4 linked regions of the Homo sapiens genome follow. The protein of the gene in region 1 interacts with the protein of each later gene in a biochemical or structural test. Each region holds a gene or a part of one and is shown in the gene's direction. Other genes may lie near its edges.

Region 1 (4,627 bases):
AGTTGGTGTTGCTATAACTGCGTTGGAATTTTCCAGAAGTCAGGTTGCCTAGAGGAACTCATTGCAGGAATTAGAAACAAATGCAAGCTGAAATTCTGGCAGGCCCTCAAGGCCTGTTTGCCTCTTTGAACTTGATGTTAGCATTCATCATCTGACTTTAATAAGGCCACAGAGTGTCTCGTTCAGTTTCATGTATTATAACAACATCCAGGTTTCTGTGAAGATAGCAAAATGTGTATGTGAGAAAATAATAAGACGAACAAGTAGATGCTGCAATTATATTAGGGCTGTTTCCACATACAGAGCGGTATGGGGAATCAATCTATTTCAAACACTGACTTTTAAAAATTACATAATTTGTATAATTCAAAAAGTACATGCATTCATTAAGCATAAAGAAAATCAAAATGATCAATAACTTTACTCTTCAGAGAAAACTACTCTTTGAATTTTGGAGTGGGTGAGCCCGATTGTCTATCCATTTATTCATTCTCTTGACCAAAATCATCATTTTACAAATGGTGGGTGTCTTCCTCTGGACCTTCTCTGATATGCTTCCCTCTCTGAGCATATGGATTTTGGAAATTAAACATTTCTCCAGTTTGCAGAGAAGAGAAATGATAGTATACTGTACTATCATCTGACCTGCTTGTTCCCGACACACTTCTTTTAATTCATCCCAAGTTTGCTGCCATGGCATAGTACCATGAGAGCTCATGAGGCGTTTTGTTAGGAGAAAGGTTTACCTCCTCAGTGCTGCCATTCCGAACAGTTCGAGGGTAGCAACAGTTTTCTAGTTATAAGTCAGTCTGGGCTTTTGGGTCTGTTAGGAAGTCATGGTTAATTCTCAGGATGGAGGTCGTTATATTTACTAACACTTCTGATCACTTTAACTTGGGGTCATTACAGATCTGCTTCTTCAAAGAATCTTTAATCCCATCAGTGAAAGGTTCCCAAGGTCCCTGAACCATACTTTACTGAGAGCTCCTCCCACTGCTCTCTGTCCCAAAGCTTGAGATATGGGCTCTGGGGGTCATAGGGTTCCCAAATAAATCCAGATTTGCAGGGAGAGGGGATGTGTTTTGATGAAGGTCCTCATGCTATAGGTTCTTCAAAGATGCTAGCAGAGGTTAGAGACAAAAATCCTATTAATTTATGGATAGTGGCAACCATCTAGCTGGACAGTTGTCAGAACCTAAAGTGCTTTAGAGGCTTGATACATAGGCAGCTTTCTTCTAGCTGTGGCCAGTGGAAGGACTAGCTCGAGGCCCAATCTTAGATTTATCATATGGAATTCCAGTACTTCACGTGAAGGCATCTTTAATGATCAGACTTGTTGGCAGAGTTCCTCGGGAGGAGGGAGCCTGGGGCTGTGGCTGTGTGATGTGTTCCTCAGTAACCACAGGTTTGCCTCTCTCCTCACAGCCCCCAGTCCCCAGCCAGACCTCCTCATACTCCTGCATGCTGCCCACCAGCCCTTCGGTGAATGGGCGGAGTTATGATACCTACACCCCCCCACATATGCAGACACACATGAACAGTCAGCCAATGGGCACCTCGGGCACCACTTCAACAGGTGAGCCACTGCTTTCTGCAGGCTGCACAGAGGCGATCTCTCTTCACTAGAAGTTTACCCAAACAGAATCTCCTGGTCTTATGGGAGGGCGTGTTTAACTCCTTGCTTTCCTTGTCCCTGGGGGATGGGGATTGAAAAGGGAAATTCAGTTAAGCTAATTAGTAACTTTACACCATATAGACAAAAACTAAAATTGTTTTTCCTGAATTTGGTCACAAAAGTTGTGTATGAAGACAAGGCCTGAGACTGCAAGTTTTCTGAGGACAGATTATTAGACGAAGCTCAGTAGGGGGCCCACTGAGCTGTAGGTGCGTGCTTGTTGAAATGCTTCTTGCCCTCATAGCTCCTCTAGACCTTTTGCTGGAAATAAAAAGTGACACATTGGTTTTCCAGAGACAGCTTTATTGTAAAAGTTCCAAACATGCAAACAAACAGAGGATTTTTTTTTTCTTTTCCTTTGGATTGGGGTGGGGGGTACTTGGGATCCAATAGGTATATATACATATATTGTCTAGTTTCTGAAGGTGCTACTTTTATTTGTAACAATTGAAGTGATTTTAATACAGTAAAAAATGTTAGAAAGTATTAGTTTTTTTTTTTTTTTTTTTTTTTGTAAACCTATAAATTTGTATTCCATGTCTGTTTCTCAAAGGGAATATCTACATGGCTATTTCTTTCATCCACTTCTAGGACTCATTTCCCCTGGTGTGTCAGTTCCAGTTCAAGTTCCCGGAAGTGAACCTGATATGTCTCAATACTGGCCAAGATTACAGTAAAAAAAAAAAAAAAAAAAAAAAGGAAAGGAAATATTGTGTTAATTCAGTCAGTGACTATGGGGACACAACAGTTGAGCTTTCAGGAAAGAAAGAAAAATGGCTGTTAGAGCCGCTTCAGTTCTACAATTGTGTCCTGTATTGTACCACTGGGGAAGGAATGGACTTGAAACAAGGACCTTTGTATACAGAAGGCACGATATCAGTTGGAACAAATCTTCATTTTGGTATCCAAACTTTTATTCATTTTGGTGTATTATTTGTAAATGGGCATTTGTATGTTATAATGAAAAAAAGAACAATGTAGACTGGATGGATGTTTGATCTGTGTTGGTCATGAAGTTGTTTTTTTTTTTTTTAAAAAGAAAACCATGATCAACAAGCTTTGCCACGAATTTAAGAGTTTTATCAAGATATATCGAATACTTCTACCCATCTGTTCATAGTTTATGGACTGATGTTCCAAGTTTGTATCATTCCTTTGCATATAATTAAACCTGGAACAACATGCACTAGATTTATGTCAGAAATATCTGTTGGTTTTCCAAAGGTTGTTAACAGATGAAGTTTATGTGCAAAAAAGGGTAAGATATAAATTCAAGGAAGAAAAAAAGTTGATAGCTAAAAGGTAGAGTGTGTCTTCGATATAATCCAATTTGTTTTATGTCAAAATGTAAGTATTTGTCTTCCCTAGAAATCCTCAGAATGATTTCTATAATAAAGTTAATTTCATTTATATTTGACAAGAATATAGATGTTTTATACACATTTTCATGCAATCATACGTTTCTTTTTTGGCCAGCAAAAGTTAATTGTTCTTAGATATAGTTGTATTACTGTTCACGGTCCAATCATTTTGTGCATCTAGAGTTCATTCCTAATCAATTAAAAGTGCTTGCAAGAGTTTTAAACTTAAGTGTTTTGAAGTTGTTCACAACTACATATCAAAATTAACCATTGTTGATTGTAAAAAACCATGCCAAAGCCTTTGTATTTCCTTTATTATACAGTTTTCTTTTTAACCTTATAGTGTGGTGTTACAAATTTTATTTCCATGTTAGATCAACATTCTAAACCAATGGTTACTTTCACACACACTCTGTTTTACATCCTGATGATCCTTAAAAAATAATCCTTATAGATACCATAAATCAAAAACGTGTTAGAAAAAAATTCCACTTACAGCAGGGTGTAGATCTGTGCCCATTTATACCCACAACATATATACAAAATGGTAACATTTCCCAGTTAGCCATTTAATTCTAAAGCTCAAAGTCTAGAAATAATTTAAAAATGCAACAAGCGATTAGCTAGGAATTGTTTTTTGAATTAGGACTGGCATTTTCAATCTGGGCAGATTTCCATTGTCAGCCTATTTCAACAATGATTTCACTGAAGTATATTCAAAAGTAGATTTCTTAAAGGAGACTTTCTGAAAGCTGTTGCCTTTTTCAAATAGGCCCTCTCCCTTTTCTGTCTCCCTCCCCTTTGCACAAGAGGCATCATTTCCCATTGAACCACTACAGCTGTTCCCATTTGAATCTTGCTTTCTGTGCGGTTGTGGATGGTTGGAGGGTGGAGGGGGGATGTTGCATGTCAAGGAATAATGAGCACAGACACATCAACAGACAACAACAAAGCAGACTGTGACTGGCCGGTGGGAATTAAAGGCCTTCAGTCATTGGCAGCTTAAGCCAAACATTCCCAAATCTATGAAGCAGGGCCCATTGTTGGTCAGTTGTTATTTGCAATGAAGCACAGTTCTGATCATGTTTAAAGTGGAGGCACGCAGGGCAGGAGTGCTTGAGCCCAAGCAAAGGATGGAAAAAAATAAGCCTTTGTTGGGTAAAAAAGGACTGTCTGAGACTTTCATTTGTTCTGTGCAACATATAAGTCAATACAGATAAGTCTTCCTCTGCAAACTTCACTAAAAAGCCTGGGGGTTCTGGCAGTCTAGATTAAAATGCTTGCACATGCAGAAACCTCTGGGGACAAAGACACACTTCCACTGAATTATACTCTGCTTTAAAAAAATCCCCAAAAGCAAATGATCAGAAATGTAGAAATTAATGGAAGGATTTAAACATGACCTTCTCGTTCAATATCTACTGTTTTTTAGTTAAGGAATTACTTGTGAACAGATAATTGAGATTCATTGCTCCGGCATGAAATATACTAATAATTTTATTCCACCAGAGTTGCTGCACATTTGGAGACACCTTCCTAAGTTGCAGTTTTTGTATGTGTGCATGTAGTTTTGTTCAGTGTCAGCCTGCAC
Region 2 (3,500 bases), on another chromosome or scaffold:
ACTTGGTAGAAGTCAAAAACTAGGGGGAAAATTAGTGACATTAGCTTCATAAATGAACTGAACAAATAAACTAAAACTTTTTAAATGAAAGAGTATTAAATGTACTTGGAGGTATCAACACATAGAAGGGGGCTGTGGATATTTTTGCTTATTCTGAAGTTTGAAATTGTCTTTCAGTGATGGGAATGCCATTGGTGTGGACATTCTGGCTCCTGATCTCCGAGGTTTTTCAGAATGCAGGACAAGGATGTGTTCTTGCCTTTCACTTCCCCTTGGCCACAACATGCAGTAGTAACCTCTTTAATTAAGAGCGTTTTTGTTTGCTTGTTTTCCCCTGCATGGAACATCAGAAACTTTTGGTTTATCAAGGCAAGCTTTTCATGCAGCATTTAGCCTTTTTGTCCCAGAGCATCTGAAAACTGAATATTGTATATGTAGTTGGATGACTATTTCATCAAGACAAGAAACCACCAATACATTTACCTGAAATTTAAAAGCGTAGCATATATATATATGCTTGATTTTTGTTCTTCCTGATCCCCTGCACCTGATAGTCTCTTTATGGTAATATTTTCACATTCTTTTTTGTTGTTGTTGTTGTTTTTGAGATGGAGTCTCGCTCTGCGCCCAGGCTGGAGTGCAGTGGCATGATCTCGGCTCACTGCAAGCTCCGCCTCCTGGGTTCACGCCATTCTCTTGCCTCAGCCTCCCGAGTAGCAGAGACTACAGGTGCCCACCACCATGCCTGGCTAATTTTTGTATTTTTAGTAGAGATGGGGTTTCACTGTGTTAGCCAGGATGGTCTCAATCTCCTGACCTCATGATCCGCCTGCCTCAGCCTCCCAAAGTGTTGGGATTACAGGTGTGAGCCACCGTGCCCGACCTGCCTGCCTGCCTTTTTCTCTTTTATTTTTTCTTTTTTTCTCTTCTTTCTTTCTTTCCTTTTCTTTTTTTTTTTTTTTTTTTTTTTTTTTGGTGGAGTCACCTAGGCTGGAGTGCAGTGGCACAATCTTGGCTCACTGCAACCTCCACCTCCCAGGTTCAAGTGATTCTCCTGCCTCAGCCTCCCAAGTAGCTGGGATTGCAGGTGCCTGGCACCATGCCCAGCTAATTTTTGTATTTTTAGTAGAGATAGGGTTTCACCATGTTGACCAAGCTGGTCTCGAACTCTTGACCTCAGGTGAGCTATCCGCCTTGGCCTCCCAAAGTGCTTGGGATTAGAGGCGTGAGCCACCATGCCTGGCCCACATTCTGCTTTTCTTATGTAAGCTCTGAACTGCTAAGTCGTAGTTTATTCAACAAATGACATAGGAATGTCTATTCATGATGAGTCTTGGTATAAAAGAGGATAGAATTAGTGAATACATTGTTCAATAATAAATCTCATCAACATTTTCTGATCAAAATGAAGTTTGTTAGTTTTCCTCTCAGTAGAAATGCATGGGCTAAAATACAGAAATAGTGATGACTGATGATGGTGATAATTCACATCCATAAAATCTAGGGCTACAATAATTTGGCGGATTGAAAGGTCATTTTGGCAGGCCTACAGTTTTCTGTCAAGGATCCAGGAATACTTTATAAGGAATTGTGAATGCCTGTCAGTCTTTTCTCCTATTGCAAGAAGGCTGACCAGTTTACACTTTATTAGTTTACTGTTTTGGACTTTTTATAAGTTATTAGTCTAAATAAGTATTTTAGCTGGCTCTGAGTATGAATAACTCACTTTTTTCCTTTCCCTAGTGAAGAACAGTCCAGACTGGCAGCAAGAAAATATGCTAGAGTTGTACAGAAGTTGGGTTTTCCAGCTAAGTTCTTGGACTTCAAGATTCAGAATATGGTGGGGAGCTGTGATGTGAAGTTTCCTATAAGGTTAGAAGGCCTTGTGCTCACCCACCAACAATTTAGTAGGTAAGTCTGAAATGTATTATGATTGTTATTGGCAACAGTTCATTTATAATCTAAACATTGTTCAGAATAAAACACATGCAAAATATTCAGTATATGAGAACAGTTGACATGGTTATAGTTGTATGTATTCTTGCATTGTCTTCCTGATGTTCTCAGTCATATTTATCACCCTCACCAGCCTCTGCTTCCCTTATCACTTTGCGGTACCCATAACTCCCCTTTACTGGAATGAATTTGATTCTACTTCTGTATGTTTTATCGTTTTATTGCTGAATACACTTGGAATGCATGAATTGACCCTAACCTTGTATCAATTTTTTTTCCCAGTTTGGATCTTCTCTTTTAGTCAACATTGTGTCAGATCTACCAGCAAAGTGTGAAGTTGAGCGATAGGAACAACTTTCTAATTATCTTCCCTGCTACTTGCAGGTGAAGACTCACAGGCAGGCAGCCCTGCCCACCTCACTGCTTCATCTCATGGTCTTCTGGTGTCTGTTCACAGGCACATTAGTTCTGTGTGCCCCTGGGGCTCACTTGGTTCCTCCTGCCCTAGGCCTTTGCACTTGCCACTTTTATGCCTAGTATGCTCATTTCCCTTTTCACCTAGGAAGCTCCCACTTGAGTTCCATATGTCTACCCATTCCACTCTTCCTCAGAGAAGCCTGTCCTGAATTTTGTCTTAGGTCAGACACACAGAAACAGAGGCATCCTGTTTTCAGTCTCTCCGAACTGAGAAAAATGAGATTACTAGGCTTAGAAGAATATGTACCAGGCCTGGCCTGGTGGCTCACACCTGTAATCCCAGCATTTTGGGAGGCCGAGGCAGGCAGATCAGTTGAGTTCAGGAGTTCAAGACCAGCCTGGCCAACATGGTGAAACCTCGTCTTTACTAAAAATACAAAAATTAGCTGGACATGGTGGTGCATGCCTGTAATCCCAGTTACATGGGAGGCTGAGGCAGGACAATCATTCGAACCCAGGAGATGGAGGTTGCAGTGAGCCAAGATCGTGCCACTGTACTCCAGCCTGGGCGACACAGCAAGACTCCGTCTCAAAAAAAAAAAGAATATATACCAATAGTCCATTCAGTCAGACAGCTTAATCAGGTATAGGTTAATTCTCAGGCTAGTATATAAGTTTGATTAAATTTCCTGACCACAATTGTCAGCTAGAGAATATTTCAATTTAAGGAGGTAAGATATGATTAAAAGTTAAACTGTCAGTATTGGATCTTAGAAGTAAATGATTATTAGGACTGTAATAGTAATTATTAGGACTGTAAAAGTAAAGGATTATTATCTGCATTAGATATCATTATATCTAATGATATAGAGACTGCAGACATAACTACAGGGCTCTTTTTCTTAAATCAGAAAATCCAGATTCAATAGAAATAGGGTAAAGTGATAGGAGGACAAATAGCCTTCCATCCAGTGGTTATCAACTGACGACTACAAGTCGGCCTCACTTGCTTTAATTATTCTATTCTATCCTTTGATGCTGCTTGAAGAACTGTGTTTTACCTCTTGACTAGTTTGTTTATTCAGTATTTTTCCTTGTACAGGTCCTCATTTTATCTAAAAGCACAC
Region 3 (4,032 bases), on another chromosome or scaffold:
ACCAGACACCTTGGCAATAGGCCAGGTATGGCTAGGGGGTTTCCTTCCATTTGGGGGTTTGCACCTGACTGGCTAAGAAATCCTGGATGGAATCTTCCCAGCCTGGTTTTCCAATCTCTGCTTAAAGCAATGGACCTAGTCCTTATCTCCCCATAGGGTGCCTTCAATTCAAGGAACCTACCATGAACTGACCATATGCTAGGCGCAGTGAAGAAGGGAGCCTCAAGGTCGATAAGATAGTTCCCAGCCCCAAGAAGGTCACAGAAGAGTTAGCTGAGGTGGTGGAGTGCAGGGGAAAGCAGCTTACCTTTTAATTTCCTCTCACCCGCTTCCTCCTTCCTCTCCCTCCACATCAACAATCCCTTCCTCTTCATTCTGTTTGCTCAATGAACTCTGAAGTATAGCAGGGCCCTTGCCTTGTCTGATTTACTGCGGAACCCCTGGCTACCAGGTCGGAGCTAGTAGCTCAATACATATTAGTCGAATGAATTGGGTGGAAGAATCAAGTCCTCCCATGAAAGTTGGGCATGCTTCATGCTTACTCTAGGAAGAGGTTTGGATGTCCATGGTTGTTCTCCAAAAGTAATCATCACTGTTCCTCTTTCCCACCAGGGACCCCTCTTTCTGACCCATTTATCATTCATTCATTGGGCCAATATGTGTTGAGTAGCTCTTCCGAACTAGGCATTATACCTTGTGCTGGGGAAGCAAACTTTCCCTACCCCTACATCACCCTCTGCACACCTTGGCCTGATCTTTTCCCAGCTTACCACCACACACACTGCCCCAGCACTTACCTCTCCCTTGTTCAACCGTTTACACAGAGGTGCCATATTCAGGCCGCCCTGATGCTGCCAACCTGCATAGGAGTTGAGGGAAGGAGGTCTCCCAGTCTCTCACCTCTGCCCTTAGCCCATCCTTCCACCTGACCTCAGGGACCTGTCCCTGCCAGAATCTGCCCAGAGCCCCAAGCCACTCTGCCTCCCGGAACAGCCCTGAACCTGAACCTGGTTGTCTCACTTCGGCCCCTGGGGTCCCTGCCCATGGGCATCCTGCAGAGCCCACCCGGTGCTCCACCCCCAGCACCCTGGCCATTCGACATTGCCTGCGGCGGGAGCTGCCAGCTTTTTGGAATTCCTAATCGCTCCTGGCCCCGGTGATTGGCTGCTCAGCTCTGACCCCACTTGGGCTGCCGCCTGGTTGGATAAAAGGGGAATCTCCTTGGGCTCCAGAGCATTAGACACCGGAGGGGGCACCTGGGACCAACTTCGCGAAGCGGGAAGCCCGGCGGGGGGGTGGGGGGAGCTAAAGACCTGCGGCCTCAGCCCCTCCAAAGAACAGGGAGATGACGGGGAAAGCAGGGGAAGCGCTGAGCAAGCCCAAATCCGAGACAGTGGCCAAGAGTACCTCGGGGGGCGCCCCGGCCAGGTGCACTGGGTTCGGCATCCAGGAGATCCTGGGCTTGAACAAGGAGCCCCCGAGCTCCCACCCGCGGGCAGCGCTCGACGGCCTGGCCCCCGGGCACTTGCTGGCGGCGCGCTCAGTGCTCAGCCCCGCGGGGGTGGGCGGCATGGGGCTTCTGGGGCCCGGGGGGCTCCCTGGCTTCTACACGCAGCCCACCTTCCTGGAAGTGCTGTCCGACCCGCAGAGCGTCCACTTGCAGCCATTGGGCAGAGCATCGGGGCCGCTGGACACCAGCCAGACGGCCAGCTCGGGTAGGTGAGGAGAGGTTGCGCTGCTGCCTGACTGGGGGGCGACAGCCGGGAGCCCCGCGCCGTCGGCTCTCGCTTGCTGGACCAGGCCTCCAGGCGGAAAAGTTCCTGCCAGGCCGGGGGTCGCCGCCTGGGCCTTGGGCCGACGCGCCTGGTGATGGGGCCCGGGAGGATGCTTCGGCGTCCGCAGGGTTTCGGCCCCAAGCGTTTCGGGCGGCCGCGCAGTTCTCCAGTCCCCGCGTCGGGCAGGGCTCGGCCACGGCACTCTGTTGGAGCCCCACTGAAAACTGGGTTTGGGGTGTCGGAGCCCGTGGTGCAGAGTCGCCGGCCGTGTCGGAGGGCCCCAGCACCGCTGCTCCACTGCGGCCCCGGCCTGGTGTAGGATCCGCACTCCTCGAGCCCGATGCTGTTCCGGCTCCGGCCCCATCCCTGGTGTCCAAAGTTGTCTGATTCCCAAATCCCGCGCTGGTCAACTGGGGTTTATTTTTCACCCCCACGAGCTCAGACAACCCGGCCATCGCGGCAGCTAAAGCGGCCGCCATCCTCTCCCACGTAAGCGCCACTATATACTGGAGCCCGGGGACGCGCGGGCTCGGGGACCCTGGGTGACCTCTCCGCCTTCTCCCCGCGCTGCTTTCCGGGAGGTGTGTCGCGGCCCGCTCGAACCTCCGATTCCTGTTTGAGCTTGGCAATTCCCCCGATTTTTCGTTGCGTTTTACTTTGTTTTACGTGGAAAGGCAACGAAAACCAGCGCGTCGCAGGCTCTCGGGCCTCGAGTAGGGACGCATTGTGCCGCCTTGCGAAAAGGACGGTGCTCGGCAGCCCCCAGTCTTCCCGGAGCCCAGCTCCCCACGCCTCCGCTCCGCTCCTCGCTCCTCGAGGCCAACTTTCCGGCCCGGGGCATTGGGGCTGGCCGCGCAGGGCAGGGCGCAGCAGGGTCGCGAGCGCTGCCGGGGATCTCTGCGGCCCCCTAAGGCTGCCTCGCTCTCCGTCGTCCCGGTCCCAAGCGCGCCGGGGCCTTTGCCTCTCTTACAACGAAATCTGTTCAAAACCTCCGGATTCGGGCCCCGGCGCGGGAGAGGTCAGCCTGAGCTCAGGGATGGGACGGCCACCGGGGCGCCCGCAGGCTTCCTGGGGAGACAGAGCAGGTCCCCGCCGCTCGCGGAGGCAGCCCGGGGTGGGGCCCTCGCGGGTTTCGGGCACAGCGGAGCGCGTCCCCCACTCTGCCGCATGTCCCTACGCCCGCTTTTCAGATTCTGAAGATGTTTCCTCCAGCGATCGAAAAATGTCCAAATCTGCTTTAAACCAGACCAAGAAACGGAAGAAGCGGCGACACAGGTGAGGCCCCCGCTTTCTGTTACCTCTCCTGCCCGCGCACCCCGCTGCCGTCCCCCGTTCCGGGATCGGGTCTCTCGGACCCTATTTTCGCCGACAACGGATCTGAGGTCCGAGGCCGTGCCAGGGCGCAGACCACGGGTTGTTTGGCGGAATCTGCCCGGGGGCCTTGGCGTCGGCACCGGTTGAGCAGGATGAGTGGCCGCCGGGAAAGCGGCCCGGTTCGGGCTTTCTCCTCCTTGTTCAGGAGAAAGGAAAGGCTCCAACACAGGCCAAACTGAGCCACAGAGTGGGGGCGGTCCCCAGATCCCCGCACCAGTACATTCTGAGAGCCACACAGACCCGGCGGCGGGCAGATTAGCTCCCACCTCCTGCCAGAGCCGGTTCTTTGCCCTCGGCCTCAACCGCCGCCCCCATTTCTCTCCCGGGGTCCCTGTCCTCTCTGCCAACTCCCTAAGCTTTCTGCTCCCACCGTTCTCCAAAGCTGGAGCGATCTCTGCACTGACAGAGCATTTTCTTTTGGCTTCTGCTCATTCGTGATTCTGACCGAGTCGCTTCCCTTCTGTGAGCCTCAGTTTCCTCGTCTGCAAAATGGAGTGGTAGGCGATGTAGACTGGACGGTCCCACCAGCCGTAGCTGGAGTAGGGTGGACTGCATCGGGGTACAGACTAGAAAGGGTTTTGTTTTGTTTTGTTTTGTTTTGTTTTTGTCTTTAAATGGAAATTACTTGCACAAAGTTAAAACTCAGTAGATGCCGACAGGTATATCTTGAAAAGTAACCTACCCTTCTCCCACCCCCGCCCTCATTCCCTTCCGCACCAGCCGCACTGCTACCAGTTCCTTGGGTACATTTGTAAGGTGGTTTTCAAGGAAATAAAGGAGAAAGAACCAAAAATCTGCCTGCCTTTCTGCGGGTGCTGCTCGCAGGTGCTGCCCCGGCGCTCACCTCGGAGCTATTTCCCCGCACCCCACTCCGTCCCCATCA
Region 4 (2,286 bases), on another chromosome or scaffold:
GGCCGTTTCTTCAGCTATATGGAGTCCAGAATTGCTCAAGTACCAAGGGAACATGAGGGGATGGCCTGAGGAGGAGTGGGGAGTAGGCGGAAGGCCCCTTGGAGGGAGCTGGGGCAGGCCCGTCCTTCACTTTGCCGTCTCTTTCTGTTGGGCTTCTCCCAGTTCATGGTTTTTGTATGTTTTGTTTCTTTATCTTGCTTCCTGCTGCTCATGTGCCCCCACGCTGTCTCCCTGCAGGCTCTCAGTCCCACATAACTATATGAGGTTGAGTTGCTGTTTGTATAATTTTTTCTTAAGTTCCATCTTTATTATATTTTAGGGCCCAGGGATCATCCTGATATTGTTGATTCATTTATGCAACTCCTGGCACAGGTGTGTTTTAGTTTTATTCATTCACGTTCTGTTCTCTCTCTTTCTCTTTCTCTTATGTTGAAATTCAATTTAAGCCTATTTTTAGCTTTCTGTTGACAAATTTTTTTTCTGTTCAGTTGAATAGAGTTTCTTCATCTGTTTCCGTGGAAGTTGACAACCCAACATCCTCCTTTAGTGCCCCTATGCCTCACTAGCTCAGTCTTCTACAAAGACCAGGGAGAGGCTGATCCCAAACGGAGGGAGCTGGGCTGGCATCGGGTGGGGAATGGGAAAGGGAGGGGGTGGTGACTGCGCCCAGCAGCTTCTTGTTGCCCAAGAAGTTCACGTGTAGGGCTGGAGTTGAAGGGTCTGGGGTACACTGTCCCCGTGCTCCTGCCGGGAACTGCCTGCCTCAGTGCCCCCAGCCTGCTCCTGAGAGGTAGGCTGGGAGCAGCTCCAAAGCGAGGGGCTGAAGAGGAATGTGCGCGGTGGAGCCCAGAGTTGGGCTGTTGGAGAGGTTGAGCTGCTGCTAGGAGGTGGAGTGCAGGCTCCATGCTAGGATGTGTTTGCATTTTGTATGTGTTTCAGTGTGTGAGACCTTATTTTGTATGTTTTGAGTTTGGTTTGGGAAGGGAACAGAAATCACCTGTAAGTAGTATGTGAATTGTGTTGGGTGCTGAGATGAATGTGTGCCTTGATGTGTGCTGTATGTTGATGTGTTGTGTGTTTTGTGTTGTTTGTTGATGTGTTAGGCCTTGATGGATTTAGAGCGTGGACGTGTGTTGGAGGTGTGTGTGTTGGGTTGTCGGAGTGTATATTATGGAGGATAGGAGTGTATGTTGTGGCATTGGTATGTCTGTATCAGAGTATGGTTTGGAGATGCATGTTGGGCTGTGGGGGTATGAAGTTAGTGTGATGGGGGCTTCTGTGTGTTAGGGGATCCTAGCACGCAGACCCCCTAACCTGTGAATTGGGGTAAATGGAGTGTTTCTTTGCTTAATCATTCCACAGATATTTATTGAGTGTGTGATACATGCTGTACTTTGCTAGGTACTGAGGATATGATAGCGAGCAAAACCAGGCACAGTTCTTGCTCTCCTGGAACTTACAAGTCTAGTTTCTGGGGGATGGGTAGGGTGGGAGGAGGGAAGAATAGGGAGTGTTCTGGGCCTGGATGGATATGTGTGTGGGTGTTTTCAAAGGTGTATCTTTGATGCGGAGGGTGTCTGAATGTGTATTTGTGGATGGGTATGTTGGAAGAGTGCACAGGGGGACTGTGGGAAGGCTGAGGGTGTAGGTGTGTGGACATGGTTTGGGGATGTGCAGGTGTTTGGTGTATGACTGTGTAATGAGGGTGTGTTCCAGATGGGGAGAGTGTGTGTATGTTAGCGGTGTTAGAGAAGTGTGTAAGGAGGGCATTTCAAGTGATGGTGCATGTGGGGGTGTTTGCACATGAGTAAACATGGGGGGTAGAGGGGATGTGAGGGGCTGGAGGGTAGAGGTCTATGTGGTATGCACTGGGGGCATTGCTGGGGAGCAGCAGTGTTTGAGGATGACTGGAGCTGTGCAGAGCATCTCCTGTGACCTGAGGATGTGCCAGTCATGTCCTGGTACCACTCGGGGCAGGCCATCTGCCCCCTTCACTTCATCTCTTCCCCCTCACCCACAGCAGCACTGGCTCCTTGGTGTGTGTATGGCCGAAGAGGGCCTGGACACAGGGTACCCTGGGTGAAAGATGGGGCTGAGGCTCCAAGGCTCCTGCTGTACTTTTCTTCTTTTTGAGCAGGAGCTGGAGGGTGCCTCAGGAATACAGGAGGGACATGGGAGGAGGGCTGTTGGGCTGAGGGCTCCCTGTCTGGCTGCCATCTCTTCTTCCTGCTACCCTGTTCACAAACTGGGGGTGCTTAACTCCCTCTGTGAATCAACATGAAGTCA

What was found. Proteins that work in one complex are often made in the same cells at the same time.
Region 2: the proteins of PAX6 (region 1) and TBP form a complex in vitro, tested with the Homo sapiens proteins (one study listed by BioGRID).
Region 3: the proteins of PAX6 (region 1) and VSX2 form a complex in vitro, tested with the Homo sapiens proteins (one study listed by BioGRID).
Region 4: the proteins of PAX6 (region 1) and IPO13 form a complex in vitro, tested with the Homo sapiens proteins (one study listed by BioGRID).

The regions. Positions count from the first base shown.
Region 1 is NC_000011.10:31,787,659-31,792,285, reverse strand, and holds the end of PAX6 (paired box protein Pax-6), read left to right. Parts: intron 1-1,425; coding exon 1,426-1,576; intron 1,577-1,961; exon of another isoform or gene 1,962-2,266; coding exon 2,267-2,352; coding exon of another isoform or gene 2,353-2,656; 3' UTR 2,657-3,260; downstream 3,261-4,627. UniProt on the Homo sapiens protein: Transcription factor with important functions in the development of the eye, nose, central nervous system and pancreas. Required for the differentiation of pancreatic islet alpha cells.
Region 2 is NC_000006.12:170,567,869-170,571,368, forward strand, and holds part of TBP (TATA-box-binding protein), read left to right. Parts: intron 1-1,743; coding exon 1,744-1,911; intron 1,912-3,500. UniProt on the Homo sapiens protein: The TFIID basal transcription factor complex plays a major role in the initiation of RNA polymerase II (Pol II)-dependent transcription.
Region 3 is NC_000014.9:74,238,217-74,242,248, forward strand, and holds the start of VSX2 (visual system homeobox 2), read left to right. Parts: upstream 1-1,232; 5' UTR 1,233-1,345; coding exon 1,346-1,715; intron 1,716-2,965; coding exon 2,966-3,050; intron 3,051-4,032.
Region 4 is NC_000001.11:43,963,950-43,966,235, forward strand, and holds part of IPO13 (importin-13), read left to right. Parts: intron 1-319; coding exon 320-372; intron 373-2,286. UniProt on the Homo sapiens protein: Functions in nuclear protein import as nuclear transport receptor. Serves as receptor for nuclear localization signals (NLS) in cargo substrates.